Homo sapiens: one gene and its partners. The protein of the gene in region 4 interacts with the protein of the main gene of each other region in a pairwise test. Each region holds a gene or a part of one and is shown on either strand. Other genes may lie near its edges. The genes, in order: CCDC91, CD19, CHST10, ECT2, OOSP2 and SPATA22.

Region 1 (3,500 bases), on a different chromosome or scaffold from region 4:
CTGGGCGTGGTTGCGGGTGCCTGTAATCCCAGCTACTCAGGAGGCTGAGGCAGGAGAACTGCTTGAACCAGGGAGTCGGAGGTTACAGTGAGCTAAGATCGTGCCACTGCACTCCAGACTGGTGACAGAGTGAAACTCCGTCTCAAAAACAAAAAAAAAAAAAAGAAGGAAATTACCAAACTGTTTTCCAAGGTAGCTGTTTCATTTTGCATTCCCGCAAGTGATGTTTGATGTTCCAGTTGCTCCACATTCTGGTCAGCACTTGTCATTTTATTTTTAATGTTAGCTATTCTAATATGCGTTTAGTGAAAACCCATTTATGTTTTAATTTGAATTTTTCTTCTAACATATTGAGCGTCTTTTCCTGTGCTATTATTTGCCATCTGTGTATCTTCTTTGATTAAGTGTCTGCTGAAATCGTTTGTTCGTTTTTAATAGGGTTGTTTGTTATTGGTTTGCAAGTGTTTTATACAGTCTGGATACAAATTCATTATCGTATATATGTTCACAGCATTTCCTTCGAGTCTGAGTCTGTAGTTTGTCCTTTCATTTTCTTAACAGTATCTTTCAAAGAGCAGAAGTTTTAAATTTTGGTGAAGTCCAGTTTATCAGTTTTTTCTCTTATGATTTGTGCTTTTTTATCATGAGAAATTTTGCCTAATCCAACGTTGCAAAGATTTTTTTTCTTATGTTTTCTTCCAGAACTTTTATAGCTTTAAATTTTAGATTTAGGTCTGTGACCAATTTCGAGTTAATTTTTGCATATAGTGTGAGGTAGGGGTCAAGACTCTCTCTCTCTCTTTCTCTCTCTGTGTGTGTGTGTATGGATGCCCCAGTCTTGCAGCACCATCTCTTGAAAAAGACTATTCTTACTGTGTCCAGAATTGGTTCCTTCCAGTGGGTTCTTGGTCTTGCTGACCTCAAGAATGAAGGCACGGACCCTCGCAGTGAGTGTTACAGTTCTTGAAGATGGTGTGTCCGGAGTTTGTTCCTCCAGAAGTTCAGATGTGTCTGGAGTTTCTTCCTTCTGGTGGGTCCATGGTCTTGCCGACTTCAGGAGCAAAGCCACAGACCTTTGCAGTGAGTGATACAGCTCTTAAAGGTGGCGCATCCGAAATTGTTCATTCCTCCTGGTGGGTTTGTGGCCTTGCTGGCTTCAGGAGTGAAGCTGCATCCGAAATTGTTCATTCCTCCTGGTGGGTTTGTGGCCTTGCTGGCTTCAGGAGTGAAGCTGCAGACCTTTGCGGTGAGTGTTACAGCTCATAGAGGTGGCGTGTCCTGAGTTGTTTGTTCCTCCCAGTGGGTTTGTGGTCTCGCTGGCCTCAGGAGTGAAGCTGTAGACCTTTGTGGTGGGTGTTGCAGCTCATTGTTATAGCTCGTAAAGGTGGCGTGTCCGGAGTTGTTCGTTCTTCCTGGTGGGTTCGTGGTCTCGCTGGCTTCAGGAGTGAAGCTGCATACCTTCACTGTGAGTGTTACAGCTCATAAAGATAGTGCGGACCCAAAGAGTGAGCAGCAGCAAGATTTATTGCGAACAGTGAAAGAACAAAGCTTCCACAGCATGGAAGGGGACCCGAAGGGGTTGCTGCTGCTGGCTCGGGTGGCCTGCTTTTATTCCCTTATTTGGCCCCACTCACATCCTGCAGATTGGTCCATTTACAGAGAGCTGATTGGTCCATTTTACAGAGTGCTGATTGGTCCGTTTTACAGAGTGCTGATTGGTCCGTTTTGCCAGAGTGTTGATTGGTGCATTTACAAACCTTTAGCTAGACACAGAGCGCTGATTGGTGCATTTACAATCCTTTAGCTACACAGAAAAGTTCTCCAAGTCCCCTACCCGATTAGCTAGACACAGAGTGCTGATTGGTGCGTTTACAAACTGTTAGCTAGACACAGACTCTGATTGGTGCATTTACAATCCTTTAGCTAGATAGAAAAGTTCTCCAAGTCCCCACCTGACCCGGAAGTCCAGCCGGCTTCACCTCTCATTACTATCTTTTCTTCATTAAATTTCTTTGGCTTGCCTTGTTAAAAATCAGTTGAGTATGTTTGTGTGGTTTGCTTTGTGGACTCTATTTTGTTCCATTGTTCTGTGCGTCTGTTTGGCTAAAACCTCAGTCCTTATTATGGTAGCGTTATAGTGTATCTTGAAGTCAAAAAGCCTGAGTCCTCCAACTTTGTTGTTGTTTGCCAAAAATTTTTGAGTATTCGAGTTCTTTTTCTTTCCATGTACATTTTAGAATCTCTTTATTTCTATATAAAAGCATTGTGGAATTTTTAGTATGATTGCATTGAAGTTATGGATCCATTTGGGGAGAATTGACATCTTAAAAATGTTGTTTTCTAATCCATTAATAAAATACCTTTCCTGTCCCACTGCTATGGCTCATGCTTGTAATCCCAGCACTTTGGGAGGTCAAGGTGGGAGGATCGCTTGAGCCCAGGAGTTCAAGAGCAGCTTGGACAACATGGCAAAACCGCATCTCTACAAAAATGAGAAAAATTAGCTGGGTGTGTTGCCATGCACCTGTAGTCCCTGATACTTGGAAGGCTGAGGTGGGAGGATTGATTGAGCCTGGGAGGTAGAGGCTGCAGTGAGTTGTGATCATGCCACTGCACTCTAGCCTCTGCAACAGAGAGAGCCTCTTTCAAGAGAGAAAACAAAATGAAACAACCTTTCTACGTTTATTTGGTCTTTGATTTCTCTCTGTTTTTAAGCTTTCCGCATAAAAATGTTGCGCATATTTTGTTATGTTTGTATCTAAATGTTTTATGTTGTTTGGTTCTGTTGTAAACAGTAACCTTTAAAAATTTTTAAATTTCCAATTACTTATGTAAGTGAATCAGTATTTTAATATTGATCTTGAATTTTTGAATTTTACAACCTTGTTAAACTCACGAGTTCGTTCTAGTAGCTTTTGTAGCTACTGCTGTCTGCTGGTAGAGACAGCTTTATTTCACATTTTCTCATTTGTTTGCCTTTTATTTTGTTTTCTTGTCTCTTTGCACTGGCTAGGACCTTTGCTAATGTTAACTAGAACAAGTCAGATCAGCACAGATATCCTTGCATTGCTCTTCATCTTAGTAGAGAAGGTATACAGTCTTTTACCATTGAGTAGTTAGCTGTAAGTTTTTTGTGGATATCATTTTGACCCAGCCAAGGAAGTTCTCTTTAACTCCTGCTTAGAGCTTTAAAATTTAATCACAAGTGAATGTTATATTGCTTTTTTTGATTGTGAACATGATAGTTGATTACAGTAGAAAGTTGGAAATAAAGGAAGACTATAAAAAAAGTTACCCTATTTTCAGTAATCTGAGGTAACTGCTGCAAACATTGTGGTGGCTTTTCTTTCAGTCTTTTCTTTTGCAAATATATTTTAAAAACAAAATTGTTAATATTGTTTTATATTTTGCCCTTTTCACTCAGAATCACATTGGGAGTACTTGCATCATGAATTATTTTGAAAACTTGATTTGTAATGGTTATGGGTTATTGTGTTATA
Region 2 (2,436 bases), on a different chromosome or scaffold from region 4:
GGTGGGGGGCCACGGGGGAGGGCAGCCTTACCCTGGGAGAGCTGGTCCTGCCCAAGGTTGGAGTCGTTCTCATAGAACTCGGAGTCCTCCTCACTGTCAGGTTCCTCATAGCCCTCCCCTTCCTCTTCTTCTGGGCCTGGGGGTTTGGGGATGGGGATGGGGAACCGAGTCATGCCCCCTCTCCTCCAGGGCCCAGTCCACTATTCGGGCCACAGACCGCTCCAACCCCCTCCATGTGGGGAACGACCCTTCCCTCTCCCAGTCATTCACCCACTCCCGGCGGGCTCCGGGACCCCAAGGCTCCATCCGCCTGGACGTCGCTGCTCGGGTTTCCATAAGACGGGGCAGTGCCCCCCAGGCCTGCGGCCCAACGCTGGGCGCGTCCTGGTGAGAGGGGCATTGTAAGACGGGGTCAGAAGAGATGGGGGCGGTCAAGGCTAAGGGTCCGCGCGGCGGGGCACGGGAAGAGGATGTTTTGGGCTCTGCGAATGGACTCTGGGTCTAGGAACCCGGCCTTGAACCCTGGGGCGGAATCTAAATCTAGGGCCGAGGCCTTCAGTTCTGGGGCGAAGTTCTGCTCTTGATTACGACTTCAGGCTCTGGGTCCTGGGGGCGTGGCTCTGAGCCCTGGAGGCGGGGTCTGGTTCTAGAGGCGGGGCTCATAGCTGGGCGGGACTCCCCGCCCCGGGGGCGGAGTTCCGAGCTCCAGAAGGCTTGGCGCACAGCGGATTGGAGGGATGAGGAGAGTGGGGGTGGAGCCCCGGATCTGGGGCGGAGCTATAGGCTGGAGGGGCGGTGCCTCTTACCGAGGCCTGAGGTGGGTGTGGGGAGAGACAGCACGTTCCCGTACTGGTTCTGGGGCCCGCTTCCTGGGGGAGGCGTCACTTTGAAGAATCTGGCGGGAGAAGAGGAAGTGCACGGTGAGGGCCGACTTGGAATGGAATGGCGGACCCACTCAAGATTCTGTCCAGGCCTTCAGAAGTTAAACGTGATCACTTGTGCTGGGACAGCCAATAGAGGAGTCTGAGATGATCATTTCCAAGGAGTTCTTCACAGAGGAGGTAGCTTTGGAGCTGGGCTTTGAGGTTGGGCAGTATTTGAAACAGTAGAGACGGAGCAAAGAACCCCTGGGCAGAGGAAACAGTAAGTGCAAGGCATAAAGTGAAGGTGGAGGGTGTTACCGCGGGGTGCACTGGTTGCATTACCTCCTGGTGGGGTCAGTCATTCGCTTTCTTTTCCTCCTCAGGACCAGGGCTGGTGGGAGTTAAAGGGCGTGATCAGAGGAGGGGCTGCTTGGCAGGGTGAGGATTTGTGGGGCCAGGTGCTGGGGAGGTCACTTGGTTCAACAAAGGAGACAGGAGTTCAAATTGCGAGGCGGACGGGCGCGGTGGCTCGTGCCTGTAATCCCAGCACTTTGGGAGGCCGAGGTGGGCGGATCATTTGAGGTCAAGAGTTCGAGACCAGTCTGGCCAACATGGTGAAACCTCGTCTCTACTAAAAATATAAAAAATTGGCCGGGTGTGGTGGCATACACTTGTAGTCCCAGGTACTCGGGAGGCTGAAGCACAAGAATCACTTAAGCCTGGGAGGCAGAGGTTACAGTGAGCTCAGATTGTGCCACTGCACTCCAGCTGGGGTGACAGAATGAGACCCTGTCTCAAAAAAAAAAAAAAAATTGCAAGAGGCTTGGGAAGTTTGAGGGAGGCTAGAGGAAGACTGGGGAGAACAGGATTCTGGGGTCTTGAAGGGAGGGATGGGAGGAAAGAAAGATGGTTGTCAGACTGGCCAGAGCCGGCTTATCCTGGGGAAGATGGAGTAGGGTTTGGACAGACCCACTGGGGACATGACTCACCTCTTTGAAGATGAAGAATGCCCACAAGGGAACACAGGCAGAAGATCAGATAAGCCAAAGTCACAGCTGAGACCTTCCAGCCACCAGTCCTCAGCAGCCAGTGCCATAGTACTAGGGGGAAGGGGCTATGAGACGAGGACCCCAGGCTGGCATCTTACGTCCCAATCCTGAGATCTCAAGGAACCGCAAGTCTGAGGCACAGAGGCAAGACACAGACTCGGCCGGGCGCGGTGGTTGACGCCTGTAATCCCAGCACTTTGGGAGGCAAAGGCGGGTGGATCACCTGAGGTCAGGAGTTCGAGACCAGCCTGGCCAACATGGTGAAACCCCATCTCTACTAAAAATACAAAAAAATTAGCTGGGCATGGTGGTGGGTGCCTGTAATCCCAGCTACTTGGGAGGCTGAGGCAGGAGAATCGTTTGAACCCGGGAGGCGGAGGTTTCAGTGAGCCGAGATCACTGCACTCCAGCCTGGGCAACCACAGCAAAACTCCGTCTCAAGAAAAAAAAAAAGACACAGACTCAAAGTCCCAAGCTGTGAGAAAGGCTCTCCTCTCTCTAAGGAGCCATGTCCCAGGAGGTCA
Region 3 (4,164 bases), on a different chromosome or scaffold from region 4:
AATCCCAGCCTCAGAGCATGCTCCTATTATTATATTTAAGGAAACGTTTCTAAGCACACATTTACATACTCCTAATCAAGAGTTTACAATCTGCACAGGCAAGAAAAAAGGCAGGAACAATACTGAATGGCATGCTCAAATAACTGATGAGCTCACATTCTCCTTCACGTACCTTCTGCAGCCTGGGGCTCACATTTCCTTGCTGTGTTTCCCCTGAACTGAGGTTCTTGGTTCCTCTTGTCACTGGATAGGAAAATTAAAAAAAAAAAAGCATTATTAAAAGTTACAAGATCAACTTACTTAATACAACTTGGTTTATACTTAGGAAGGAAATAGTGAACCATTTTGATGATTCAAATATATTTGGCAGAATGGGTCTCTTACAAAGGCAGGTTATATTTGGATTTCTTGGTAAATGAATATTCTAAATGTACCAAAACCACTAGCTGTTTAAAAGACTCTTCCATGTAACTTAGTGTGAAAAATGAAACATTTTTTGTAGCAAAAATAATCAAATCCAATTATGCCTGTTTCGTATGTTTGAAATAGTTATAGGATTCCTATACAAGATGATCAATTCTTCCAATGCAAAATGTTCTCTGGATTTTCGTACTCCTTACACCTTTAGCACCTGGAAAATTTTAGCCAAATGCCATATCATAAAAAACCAGAAACAAGCCAAAGTCATGGAATTAGATCATGGATTTAGGAGATCTACCAAAATAAACATACAACTCATTTAACATACAATAAAGCCCAAGCTGACTGGGACACATGCAGCACGGTCTCTCTCTGCCTCCCTTTACTCTAAGAACTCAATGCTAAAATTAAAAGCAATTTCCTATTATGTTGATTGAAAGATTAAGCTTTATATACAGTCATTCATCACTTAACAATAGGGATACCTTCTGAGAAATGTATCGTTAGGCGATGTTCTTCTGCAAACATCAGAGCGTTCTTACATAAACCTAGATAGTACAGCTAACCACACACCTAGGCTATATGGTACAGCTGACCACACACCTAGGCTATATGGAATCATCTATTGCTCCCGGGCTACTAACTTGTACTGCTGTTACTGTACTGAATACTGTAAGCATCTGTAATACAATGGTAAGTATTTGTGTATCTAAAATTAGAAAAGGTAGAGTAAAAATAAGGTAGTATAGTCTTATGGGACCACTGTTGTATATGTGGTCCATCATTGTTAGAAACATCATGTACGGCATTTGATGGTCCTCACATCCAGGTTATCCAGAAGTGTATGAAAAGAAAATGAACTCCTGGGTTTCTGCAATCTCTAAGGTCCTGCAACCACCTCTCTCCCCTGTTTCTATTCCTGGCTCTCTCTCACCTTTTTATTGTATGAACTCCTCAAACACTGAAAAATGATCCGAATATAACTGCAAGTTGCCTGTGATGTTTACAAATTCTTTCCTTTCTTTGTTCAGTTTTGCAAACACTCCAATTTTCATTTCAGCGAAGAAGAGAATTTTCTGCTCAGGTATTTCTTTGAGATTCTATTCTTCAGGGTCAAGAGCAATTCTGAATTCTGAATTCCAATTCTGAGCCAAGATGGACTAAGCTCTTAATTATAATGGGGAGGGAAGGGAAAAGACCACTTCTCTCTTTGTGTCTTTTCATTTTAACCCAGTCACTGAAAAGAGTGAAGGAGGAGGTGGTTGGTTATCAGAGAGCCAGAGCTAAACTGAGCTGCCTAATTTTAACAGCGTCTGAGACATTTCTCACTCTGGCACTCTAAGCAATGCAATAACCCAACTCCTCATGGCCCAAAGCCCCAGACTCTGGTTTTCAGACAAAACAACAACAACAACAACAACAACAAAAACCCACCGTTATGACAGTCCTGCCGCTGAGCTAACCAGAACCTGGCTGCACTACTTTCCATTCACTGCCCAACCCTTTCCTGCCTTGCAGACTTGGAAAGCAAAAATGACATTTTGGAAAACCTGGTTCACCTTCCCAGCCAGAAGTGCAGAACTGCATGCCTCAACCTCCAACTTCGGACAGGCCTCCTGACAGCGAAGATCAGAGGCTCAGGGCACCCCGGGGCCCCTCAGGCAGGGAACGTGCATTCCCACCCCTGACTCCCCTCGCACCGAAGCTGCACATGCTCCTTCTTCCCTGCCTTCCTCTGCATGCTCCTTGGACCCAAGCTGAACCCTTTCTTCCTCTCTCCATCTACAATTACAAACGCAAATTCTCAGCCAAGGATGAAAGAAGTAAATTGTAGGCTCGCACAATATCAATAATTCCGCGGGTCACAGCATCCCGCACAAGGACGCCTTCTTATTGCATAATTAACGCGAGGAAGGCTCTTCCCGCTACTCCCGCGAACTAGGGAGGTCTTCAAGTCGCCAAAACACACCGGGATGTGGCTCGCCAGGACAAAACCCGCGGGTTCCCCGGTTTTTCCGTGCGCCCCGCGGCGGGGAGAGGGGCCCAGGCGCTGAAACCCACCCGCCTGCGCGTCCCCGAGCTCACCCTACTGGAGCGGCGCTCGTCCGGGTCCTTAGGCTCCTCCCCTGGCCCTGGGGGCGCCGCGCGGGTCGGGCTTCGCCGGGCCTGTGGGCGAAGCGCGCGGGGTCCTGGGAGCTCGGGAGGCCCGCCCCACCTTGCCCCGAGGCCTCCGCGCCGCGGCCCGTCGGGTCCCGGGATGTGGCGGCGGCGGCAGCGGAAGTAAGGAAGACGCCCGGCGCGCTAGACCGGCTTTGGGGGCCAGAACGCCGGCACCGCCTCACGCGGCCCCCTCGCGCCTATCCGGCCGTGCGCGCCGCCTGCCCGCGCGCGTCCCCGCCGCCGTCCCCGGCCGTGCGCGTTCCAGCGGGTCGCGGGGAGTGGGGAGGGGCGCGGCCGCGGGACCCCAGGCCCGGATCCCGAGTCTCCCTTTCTGCCGCTGCAAAAGCGTTCTTTCTGACCGAGACCTGCGGCCGGAACAAGTCCCGCTGGGCCTCCATCCAGAAAACAGGTTCGCTTTTTGAGAAAGAAAAAAAATCCCAAACTTGGAAAAAGGCAAAAAACCAAACCAAAACAACAACAAAGTCACACACACACACAAAACCACCTTGGAAAAATACAAAAAATAGATAAGTAAATTTCTTAAATCCCCAACTTGGAAAAAGGCCACTTGCTTGCGTTAAGGGTAACTTCTAGCATTTTCTAATAAGCCTACTTAGTAAAAGGGGGACGTTCTATTCTTTAAAGAACCCCCTTGGCTGTCCGGGTTGGGGATGTAACTGTTGTCTAGGTACAGTGGATTAACGAAGGACAATGATAACGGCCTGACCAGTTTACAGACCTGAAGAATTGTAACTTCTTAACCTGCAGAAATGGATAAGGCCTGAGTCAACCTCAAAGGTATTGGGATTTTATTGCCCCAAAGAAGATAAACTAGTTTTATTTTTATACAACCTACATGTTTGTTAACTACCCGACTATATCTGTGTCTATTTAGCAAACAAGTAAAATAGATACGTGTATGTATACACACACACACACACACACACACAATTTTTCAAAGCTTTCAAGGAACAAGCGTTTTTGTTTTTGTTTTTTTTCTTTTTTATTGGTTCCCTCCTTAATGAGTTAATAATATTGAGGGAGCTGGCTGTTTGAGTATTTCACTTCTAGCCCCATTACTAATCATGGTTTAAAGGTTCTGTCCCTCATGCAGAAGACGTTTACTGAGCCCTTTTTTGGGGCCCTGTGGTTGAGATGAGACATTGGGTTTCCCTTTGAGGATTTGAATCGATACACGTGCACGGCAGAAAAGAAGTAAGTAAATGTGAAGCTTGGATGTGATGCAGCATATTATGCAGGATTTAAGGATCAAGGCTCTGGGAATCAGACCACGTGGATTCAGAGCCTTAGTCACTGCATATGACTGTTGACCTTGTCACACTCTCATCTCTCTGTGTCCCAGTCTTCTCATCTACAGAATGTGGTACTAGGCCGGGCGTGGTGGCTCACGCCTGTAATCCCAACATTTTGAGAGGCGGAGGTAGGTGGATCACCTGAGGTCGGGAGTTCGAGACCAGCATGACCAACATGGAGAAACCCTGTCTCTAATAAAACTACAAAAAAAATTAGCCAGGAGTGGGGGCACGTGCCTGTAATCCCAGCTGCTCGGGAGACTGAGGCAGG
Region 4 (3,500 bases):
TCTCAGTAAAGAACCATGGAAGTAAATTGAGCTTGTGTGCTTTTGATTACAGGCAAATACTCCTGAGCTCAAGAAATCAGTGTCAATGCTTTCTCTAAATACCCCTAACAGCAATCGCAAACGACGTCGTTTAAAAGAAACACTTGCTCAGCTTTCAAGAGAGACAGACGTGTCACCATTTCCACCCCGTAAGCGCCCATCAGCTGAGCATTCCCTTTCCATAGGGTCACTCCTAGATATCTCCAACACACCAGAGTCTAGCATTAACTATGGAGGTAATTCACATTCTTAAAAACTTGTCTTTAAAGTTTAGTGGAATGGAATAATTGTTAGAATTTAGATAAATCCCTGATATAGTGAATATGGAAGTCTTTGCCTTTAATTACCTTTGTTCTAGCTGTAGAGAAAAGACACATGAATAGTTAAGCTTAATAATGTTGCAATTTAATGACTGCTTACTACATGCTAAATGCTTTATACGTTTTGTGTGTTTATAATAGATTTTATTATTCCTGTTTTACAGATGACTAAACTGAGATACAGAGAAGTTAAGTAATTTCTCCAGGGTCATATAACTAGAGAGTGATAGTGCTGTTCAAAAAGCAAACAAAGTCACAGGGGAGGTCACATAAATTATGGAGAAAATAGGTAGAATGAAGTCAGAGGAGGGTGAGTTCACTTTGTGCTGAACTGATACAGAAAGGCTCCTATAATTCTTCCTTGGTTATCAGTATTTCCCTTTCTTTTTGATTTTTAGTCTGTAAACAAATGTGTTTTCTAGATTTAAGAAACAAAAAAAATCAAAATCTCCTCCGGACCTCATGACACTTTTCACTTATTGTCCCATTTTTCTGTTTGCTTTCACATCAGCATACTTAAAAGAATTACTTTGATCTATTGTCTCATTTCCTTGATTCTCGTTGTCCTTTCAACGCATTCCAACTGATCTGCAGTCCTTGTTGGGGAGACAGTTTTTATGCATTCAACACATGAATAGCTACTCCTTTATGGACACAATTTTTTTTCTTTGCTTCTGTGATATTACTTACTCATTTCTCATTCTCCTTGGCCTAACTTCTTTTTTTCAATTCTAAATGTTGTATGTTCCTCCTGAGTCATTGTTTCTTCTCTATTGTACTCTCCCTAAATTATCGTAGTAAAATCTATGGTTTTGAAAAGCATTTGTATGCTGATGACTCCCAAATTTGTCCTCTTCCCTGTCAAGCTACCTACTTTGTACTTCCTTGTCCATGTCTAATAGATATCTTAAACCTAAGATAACCAAATTAGACCTTTGGATTCTGCCACTCTTAATTCCTCTGTTCCTTTGCTCCTCTTCATCAGTCTTTTCTGTAAAAAGGATCTCTCTTAGATGATTGCAGTAGTCTCCTAAATAGTCTCTCCCTTTTAATTTGTGCCTTTCTATATGCAACACTTAGAAAAATCTTTAAAAATATATAAATTAGATGATGCCACTCCTCTGCTTTAAAATCACTTAATGGCTTTCTATTACTGTAGCTTTTAAGTCCCTATGTAATCTTGCCCTCATCTGCCTAATCTCATGTGGTATTATGCTCTCTAATAATGCCTGTACTCTCTAAGCTTCAGTCATACCATCTTTGTTATTCTTCAAATATTTTTAGTACATCCATACCTCAGGACTTTGTTACTTTCTCTGCCTCAAGGAAATCTGCGTGGATTGTCTGTAAAGTTAAATCCCTCCACTCCTTTCTGCCAATCCTGTGACCTGGTAGTTGTTTTTAGTAGTAGTTCTTACGATAGAAATTACAGTACTTGTTTACTTCTTTATTATTTGATTTGCTTCAAATAAGTAATCTTTAAGAGAAAATGAACCTTGTCTGTCTTATTCTGTGTTTATCCTCAGACCCTAGTATAAAGTGGGTATTCACTAAATACTTAAGGGAAGAACTGAAAGTGAATTCAAGGTTGGCCCAGAAATTTGAAATGAATTTGAGAATATAAAGAGGAGCAAATATACAGATAATAGCATACAAACTGAGTTTTTAGAGAATAATGGATAGATCAGTTTGCTTGGAATGTGGAGGAATAAAAGTTAAAAATGTTAATTGAGGCCTAATATTAGGTCACTTTCAAATAAGACTGTAATATCTGAACTGTATATTGTCATCAACAAGGAATTTTAGAAACTCCTTGAGCAGCAGAGAAATTGATTGAATAGATAATTCATAGAGAGTTGTTCTGAAGAATGATTAGAAGGAAGGCAGTTTGGAGACAGTCAGACCATGATGTAATCTATTACAATCGCTTCGGCCATGAAATAATAAGGTGCTGAACCAGAGTATGTGGTGGTTGGAAAGAAAAGTAAGAAGCACTGGAGAAATATTGGTAGAATAAAGCAATAGGGAGGAAATAAAAAGAGATGAAGGCAAATTACTAATTTAAATGAAAGAAATGTTGCCTTGGCATGGATAGGAAATTTATATTTTGGAGGGAGGTAGTGAAGTTTTAGAGAAATCCAAGTTACATTAAGGCAGAACTATCCAGTAAGCATTTGGAAAAGTTGAACCAGCTTGAGAGGGAGATCATGATTAGATCTGAGAATGTACTAGTTTTATAATCATAATGGACAATAGCATGGGATGGTAAGAGGAGAACATAAAGGACTGAAACTTGAATATGCATTTTAGGAGACAAGAGAACAAAATGAACCACCGAAGTAAACAGATGTGACAACTATACTGATATTTTAGGTGCTCTGTAAAATAGATTCCCCAGTTTGTAGGTCATTGTCTAGACACAGAATAATTAAATTAGATCAGTGCATCTCAATTTTTTCCCACTGAAGTATATTCTGTAATGGCAGAGGCTTCTGGGTCTGGTGAGTGTAGCCTAAAATAATGTTTGACAAGTGGGAAATTTTTTGAGATTCTGTTTTTTTTAAAAAGCACTCAGGGGCTGGGCGCGGTGGCCCACGCCTGTAATCCCAGCACTTTGGGAGGTTGAGGAGGGCAGATCACGAGTTCAGGAGTTCGAGACCAGCCTGACCAACATGGTGAAACCCCATCTCTACTAAAAATACAAAAATCAGCAGGGTGTGGTGGTGTGCGCCTGTAATCCCAGCTACTCAGGAGACTGAGGCAGGAGAATCACTTGAACCCGGGAAGTGGACGTTGCAGTGAGCCGAGATGGCACCACTGCACTCCAGCCTGGGGGACAGAGTGAGTCTCCATCTCCAAAAAAAAGCACTCAGAACTCCATAGTACATAATTGTTTTCATATAAAAGCATTTAAAATTGTTTATCATTGAGTAAAATTGATGTGCTGGAAATATATATTATGGTTCTTTGTCACCTATTTCTATTTTATGTCATACATTCCTTTTCCTGTTGAAAAACTTGCTATTAGGTGCTTCTATATATAATGTTAAAGTATTCTAACCATATTAACAGTAAGAAAACAGATTTTAAGCTTTTATACATTAAAAAGATGTATATATATCTATAGATATGTGTATAGAT
Region 5 (2,568 bases), on a different chromosome or scaffold from region 4:
TTTGAACACTTTCTTAAGATAGACACCCTTCTGATGCTTTTCATATGGTTCTTTCCACAGTGAAAATAAGTTGCTCTCTGGACTGGTTGATGGTCTCAGTTATCCCAGTTGCAGAAAGCAGAAATCTGTATATATTTGCGGATGAATTACATCTGGGAATGGGCTGCCCTGCAAATCGGATACATACATATGTATATGAGTTTATATATCTTGTTCGTGATTGTGGCATCAGGACAAGGGTAAGAACAGTGATTGTTTGTAAAAAATACTGCATGTTTTGTCAGACTTTTATGCCTAGTATTAAAATTGTCTTTTAAAAAAATAATGTTTGCTTCTCATTGTAGTAATTTATGGGCAGGGGACAACGGAATTTATCATTATTTTTCACTGAATATTGGGTCATTCTGTGTGCACAGGACCTTAGATCACAGATTTATAAATTGGCTAGGGAACTGATTCTAAGTTGCCCTTAGGCTACTATTATATTTTACTAAATATTAGCAGACTGCTTTAAATTTTGTGTGATTCTTCTAATGTGGAAGGTCACCAATCTTGGGAAGCTCCATCATGTTCAATGTTAGGTCATTTGAAATCTATCCATGTTCCATGAGGATTTGTGTAAATATATAGTGGATTTTCATTGAAATGAAATCTCTTGTCATTCAGCTAGGCACAAATCCTAAATTGCGTTGTTATCCTGGGATATTATCTTCTCACAGATTCCCAAATTTAAGCAATTTATATTCACACTACACAAATATTTTGGGCCAGTGACCAATGATAATAACAATCATTTTTGAATAAAGTATTTTATTTTAGAAATTGGGAACTTGGAGCTTCAGAAGGTGCTTTACCAGCTTTTCCAGGGATGCACTGCTTGTTGGTGGTAGTTTAGATACCAAACCAGGATGAATACTCTCCGAAGCTTGTGCTTTAAACCACTCTCCGTTATTTGACTTACAAATCACCTTTCTCAAAGGAACTGTTGGAAACCTTTTCATTAATGAATCATAAAGATGGCTGTAAGCGGCAGTTTAAATTTGCTGCAATGAATTAAGATTGTTTTGCCCCCAGGCATTTTAAATTCACTCTTAGGGATAACACTCCTCTTCTGTCCCAGTGAGTTGTCATATCTTTATTTATATTTAAGAATGACAGTAGCCATTTTTGAGATCATGAATGTTTTTTACATCCTATTCAAGTGTGTGTATTCCTCATCTGTTACTCCAAATATCTTCCACTGAAACTTCATGCTCTCCTAGGTAGTTTCTGAGGAAACTCTCCTTTTTCAAACCGAGCTGTACTTTACCCCAAGGAATATAGATCATGACCCTCAGGAAATCCATTTGGAGTGTTCCACCTCTAGGTAAGTCCAGCAGATTTGATTCCTTTGGAATGTTTTAGCTTTACCTTTGCTTATGAGAAGCTTCTGCAGAAGCATAGACTTTAGAGAATATAACATGATTCACCCATAAGTATAATTGTAAACAAACCCCAAATTAGTATTTACACAAATATTTTAATGAGTACTTTAAAATGTTTTAATATTTTGAATGTAATGTTTATTTTAGAATAAAAACATATAGATTTATAATGGTCCTAACAATCTAGTGTAACTATGTTATTTTATAATAACTCAACTACAAAGCAGAGTCATTAAATACTCTGTCACCTTTAGTAAGTGATAGGATTAAGCACTGATATTATCTTTCAATGTTTTGTCTTTTATAATATTCTGATACATTTTATTGCTCAATTTCATCTTATAAGAGTAAGTGGCTAAAAACATAAGAAAATCAGTCCTTCATTTAATACTAACTCATGGAGAATACATGAAGGGAGGGCTTATCAGCCTAATTATTAAATGTACTTTGCTTGCAATTTTGTGGAACTGAGATATTGAATCCCAAGAGCCTCGTGTGAACTTTGAGACTAAGTGGAAAGGTATCCTGATACACTTTTTTTTTTTTTGCCATGCCATTGAAATATTTATGTTAAGTCTTATAAATCTGAGTGAAGAACCTTGGAAACTATCTCAAAACCACAGGAAAATTTTTATCCTTGCTTAATATGTGAAAATAGTTGACATCAAAATAAGAATTTAGAGCTCAGCCAATGTGCAATGTCTTAATGTGATTATAGTACTTTTTCTCAAGGAGAGGCAGAATTTTTTTTTAATTTTGGTAAAATATACATAATCTTGTACATTTGTACAAGTTGTAAATTTGTTAAAATGTATATAATCTTTTTTAATTTTGGGAAAATGTACAAATCTTTTAATTTTGGTAAAATGTACATAATCTAAGATACCATTTTAAGTGTACAGTTCAGTGGCATTAAGTCCATTCACATTGTTAATACTTTTACTCTTCCCTTTAACTTATTTTCATAAAGTATTTTCATAATACTTTTACTCTTCCCTTTAACTTATTTTCATAAAGGCTGAGGGATTTAGTGATATTCAGGAACATAGCTGAACTCTAAATAGAAACCACCCCTTGATTCTCTGTCTCTATCTCTGTCTCTGTCCTTGTCTGTCCCTGTCTTTCTGGTCTGTCCCTGTTTCTC
Region 6 (3,500 bases), on a different chromosome or scaffold from region 4:
ATATTTGCTTTATATATTTAGGTGCTCTGATATTGGATGTATATATGTTCACAATTTTTATGTCTTCCTATTGAATTTACCCATTTATCATTATATAATGACTTTCTTTGTCTTTAGAAACAACTTTTAACTTAAAGTCTATTTTGTCTGACATAAACTTAGCCACCCCTGTTTTCTTTTGGTTGCTGTTTGCATGGAATATCTTTTTCCATCCCTTTATTCTCAGCTTTTATGTGTCTTTGAATCTAAACTGAGTTCATTGTAGACAGCATACAGTTGGATCTTTAATCCACTCAGCCTCTCCTCATATAGGCATACCTTATTATGTTGCACTTTGCTTTATTGCACTTCACAGATACTGCATTCTTTACAAGTCAAAGTTTCGTAGTAACCCTGCATTGAGCAAGTCGATTGGTGCCATTTTCCAACAGTATGTGCTCACTTCATGTTTCTATGTCACATTTTGGTACTTCTTGCAATATTTCAAACTTTTTCATTATTATTATATCTGTTATGATGATCTGTGATCAGTGATCTTTGGCATTACTACAAATGTGCTGAACAGAGAGTTGTAAAGCTGAAATAAATTTTTCTAGACTATGAATAATAAAAGTAATTTCTATAACCATGAGAGTGAGGAAAGACAAAATTGTGTTTCTGTTCTCTTTATTGAAAATAAAATTACAAAATTGTTGCGTGTGATGGTACGTACCTGTAGTGCCAGCTACTCTGGAGGTTGAGGCAGGAGAATCACTTGTGCCCATGGGTTTGAGACTGGCCTGAGTCCAAAAAAATTACAAAATTATTGTCGTATGAAGAAGTGATCAGTGTAGGAAAAAATTTCTATAAAGGAGTATCAGGCAGTTAATTTATAATAATTCTAACAATTTTTTTCTGGGTATCGTGATGTTTGTGGTGTTTATAACTTAAATTGTTGTAATTGTGCTTTCTTTTCTCGTTATTTTGTACTAACTTTGTACCCAATTAACAGTGTTCCCCAAATTATACAAGCTTCAGACCTCATAAAACTTGGATTTGTTCCTGGTCAGCAGTGTACCTAGACCTCTTTTTGGATTATTTACCTAAGTAGGGGATGGGTTGTATTGGTTGCCCTCTTGTGATACTTGTGGTATTTCCAGGAAAATTACTGAGAATTAAGAATTTGTGGGCTGGGAATGGTGGCTTATGCCTCTAGCCCCAGCACTTTGGGAGGCCAAGGAGGTGGATCACTTGAGCCCAGGAGTTTGTGGCCAGCTTGGGCAACGTGGTGAAACCCTGTCTCTACAAAAAATAACAAAAATTAGCTGGGCATAGTGGCACTCACCTGTAGTTCCAGCTACTCAGGAGGCTGAGGTGGGAGGATCGCTTGAGCCTGGGAGATTGATGCTAGAGTGAGCTGTGTTCTTGCCATTACATTCCAGCCTGGGTAACAGAACGAGACCCTGTCTCCAAGAGAAAAAAAAAAAATTCGTGACTTAGACTAGTTTTGTTTCCTGTGGAACTCCTAACTAGGCTGCTCAGAAATTATGCTTTTGATTTTGGCCTCATTAGCATCTAGCATAATGTTCTGGTCAGCTGATATAACACACTTAATGTTGCTGACAAATGCTGTACCAAATACATTATAGGGCTTTTAAGCTGTGCAGTAAAACCACAAAATTTCTAATCAAATATTAATAGCTATCTATCCTGCTTATATGTATTCTCCTTGTGATTTAAAATCATTGCTAAGCCACAGTTTAACTTCTTAAAATTTTACTTTGTAGAAAATTTTAAAATTGAATATATAAAGAAGCAAGTAAATGCCCTCAAAGTCTTACCACTTGGATACAACTACTATCATATGAAGAATGCTATCATTTAAAAATATACTTTGTAGTACTAGACTCTGAGTTGGGAGATCTTGTATTTCCTGGGTTCTAGACTTGTGAGTAATTTCCTGTATGACTTTGGACAAGTTAATTCCTCATTAGGGATCAGTCTTCTCATCTGGAAAGAGAGGTAGTACAACATTGTAGGGTTGTTGTGATGTATTTGGAATTTCTCAGTAGTTAGTTATAAAGTGCTTTCTAAGTCATAAATTGCCATATAAATGAATTTTTCATTATTAATTTTTTTTGTAATTAAGAAACCATATAGAAACAAATGCTTTTTTTTTGCACTATTACAGCTACAGAGATGGTAACAAAAATACCAGCTTGAAAACTTGGAATAAAAATGATTTTAAGCCTCAATGTAAACGAACAAACTTAGTGGCAAATGATGGAAAAAATTCTTGTCCAGTGAGTTCGGGAGCTCAACAACAAAAACAATTAAGAATACCTGAACCTCCTAACTTATCTCGCAACAAAGAAACCGAGCTACTCAGACAAACACATTCATCAAAAATATCTGGCTGCACAATGAGAGGGCTAGACAAAAACAGTGCACTACAGACACTTAAGCCCAATTTTCAACAAAATCAATATAAGAAACAAATGTTGGATGATATTCCAGAAGACAACACCCTGAAGGTAAATGTTTAAATACAAATTAATGACTTATTTACATTTTTAAAAATATGAGGTAAATATTTAGAAAACTACAGAGATAAGAGCGCCTGAAATAAATTCCATGACATACATTACTTGATTAGCATAAATATTCAGTTCCATTGAAGTGGATGAATGTTAGTTTCCAAAATATTTTCTTAGAGGGTATGAATGGCTGCTCCTTTTCCTTTCAAACTTTAGAGTTTTCTGCTGGATTCTGACTTTCACTTTACACTCATTTTAAAGATAAAGACAGTTTATCCATTGTTTATGAAGTTACCCAGGCTCTTGATATGTCATTCTAAGTATTTTTCAACAGAGGTCAGCAAACATTTTTCTTAAAGGGCCAGACAGTATTTTTGGCTTTATGGGCCGTACTGTCTCTGTTGCAGCTACTCAGCAATACTACTCAACTCTGCCACTGTAGCTTGGAAGCAGCCATAAGCAATACATAAATGAATGGACACTGCTCTCCTCCAACAAATGTTTACACAAATAGATAGCAGGTTAGATTTGCACTGCAGGCCATAGTTTTCTTTATGATCAACTTATTATGACCTTTGCTTTATGATCTTGTCCTAGTCTACCTTTGTAGCCTCATATTTCATAGTCTACTAATTGTCCAATGCTCTAGCCACTTCAGACTCGTCACAATTCTCTAAACATAGCATACACTCTGTGCTTTGGTTTATATTCTTCCCTATACCTGTATCTCAACTGTACTTCCTCTCTACGCTCAGTGCTCTGATTGCTCTTTGTAAATGTTATTTATATATTATGTGTGCTGGTTATTCCTCATCTCTGCTCCCTGGCCCCTTGGCCCACTTGATTCTTCACCTGCCCTTCTCTGTTGTGGAAGGCTGAACTGTCCTATGTAGTGCATCATCCTGAGATTGTTTACTTGCTGGCTTTTGCTAGAGGTCAGCCAGTAGGAGTCACTGGTACGACATCATAGGGTGGGAGGAAAGG

The links.
Region 1: the proteins of ECT2 (region 4) and CCDC91 interact in a two-hybrid assay, tested with the Homo sapiens proteins (one large-scale study listed by BioGRID).
Region 2: the proteins of ECT2 (region 4) and CD19 interact in a two-hybrid assay, tested with the Homo sapiens proteins (one large-scale study listed by BioGRID).
Region 3: the proteins of ECT2 (region 4) and CHST10 interact in a two-hybrid assay, tested with the Homo sapiens proteins (one large-scale study listed by BioGRID).
Region 5: the proteins of ECT2 (region 4) and OOSP2 interact in a two-hybrid assay, tested with the Homo sapiens proteins (one large-scale study listed by BioGRID).
Region 6: the proteins of ECT2 (region 4) and SPATA22 interact in a two-hybrid assay, tested with the Homo sapiens proteins (one large-scale study listed by BioGRID).

The regions. Positions count from the first base shown.
Region 1 is NC_000012.12:28,193,456-28,196,955, forward strand, and holds part of CCDC91 (coiled-coil domain-containing protein 91), read left to right. Parts: intron 1-3,500. UniProt on the Homo sapiens protein: Involved in the regulation of membrane traffic through the trans-Golgi network (TGN). Functions in close cooperation with the GGAs in the sorting of hydrolases to lysosomes.
Region 2 is NC_000016.10:28,934,971-28,937,406, reverse strand, and holds part of CD19 (B-lymphocyte antigen CD19 isoform 2 precursor), read right to left. Parts: intron 1,978-2,436; coding exon of another isoform or gene 1,964-1,977; coding exon 1,853-1,963; intron 1,255-1,852; coding exon 1,206-1,254; intron 896-1,205; coding exon 807-895; intron 385-806; coding exon 271-384; intron 137-270; coding exon 32-136; intron 1-31. UniProt on the Homo sapiens protein: Functions as a coreceptor for the B-cell antigen receptor complex (BCR) on B-lymphocytes. Decreases the threshold for activation of downstream signaling pathways and for triggering B-cell responses to antigens.
Region 3 is NC_000002.12:100,414,869-100,419,032, forward strand, and holds the start of CHST10 (carbohydrate sulfotransferase 10), read right to left. Parts: upstream 2,801-4,164; 5' UTR 2,506-2,800; exon of another isoform or gene 1,355-2,505; intron 244-1,354; 5' UTR 173-243; intron 1-172. UniProt on the Homo sapiens protein: Catalyzes the transfer of sulfate from 3'-phosphoadenylyl sulfate (PAPS) to position 3 of terminal glucuronic acid of both protein- and lipid-linked oligosaccharides.
Region 4 is NC_000003.12:172,764,226-172,767,725, forward strand, and holds part of ECT2 (protein ECT2), read left to right. Parts: intron 1-52; coding exon 53-275; intron 276-3,500. UniProt on the Homo sapiens protein: Guanine nucleotide exchange factor (GEF) that catalyzes the exchange of GDP for GTP. Promotes guanine nucleotide exchange on the Rho family members of small GTPases, like RHOA, RHOC, RAC1 and CDC42.
Region 5 is NC_000011.10:60,043,409-60,045,976, forward strand, and holds part of OOSP2 (oocyte-secreted protein 2 precursor), read left to right. Parts: intron 1-60; coding exon 61-239; intron 240-1,262; coding exon 1,263-1,366; intron 1,367-2,568. UniProt on the Homo sapiens protein: Involved in oocyte maturation.
Region 6 is NC_000017.11:3,447,820-3,451,319, reverse strand, and holds part of SPATA22 (spermatogenesis-associated protein 22), read left to right. Parts: intron 1-2,170; coding exon 2,171-2,513; intron 2,514-3,500. UniProt on the Homo sapiens protein: Meiosis-specific protein required for homologous recombination in meiosis I.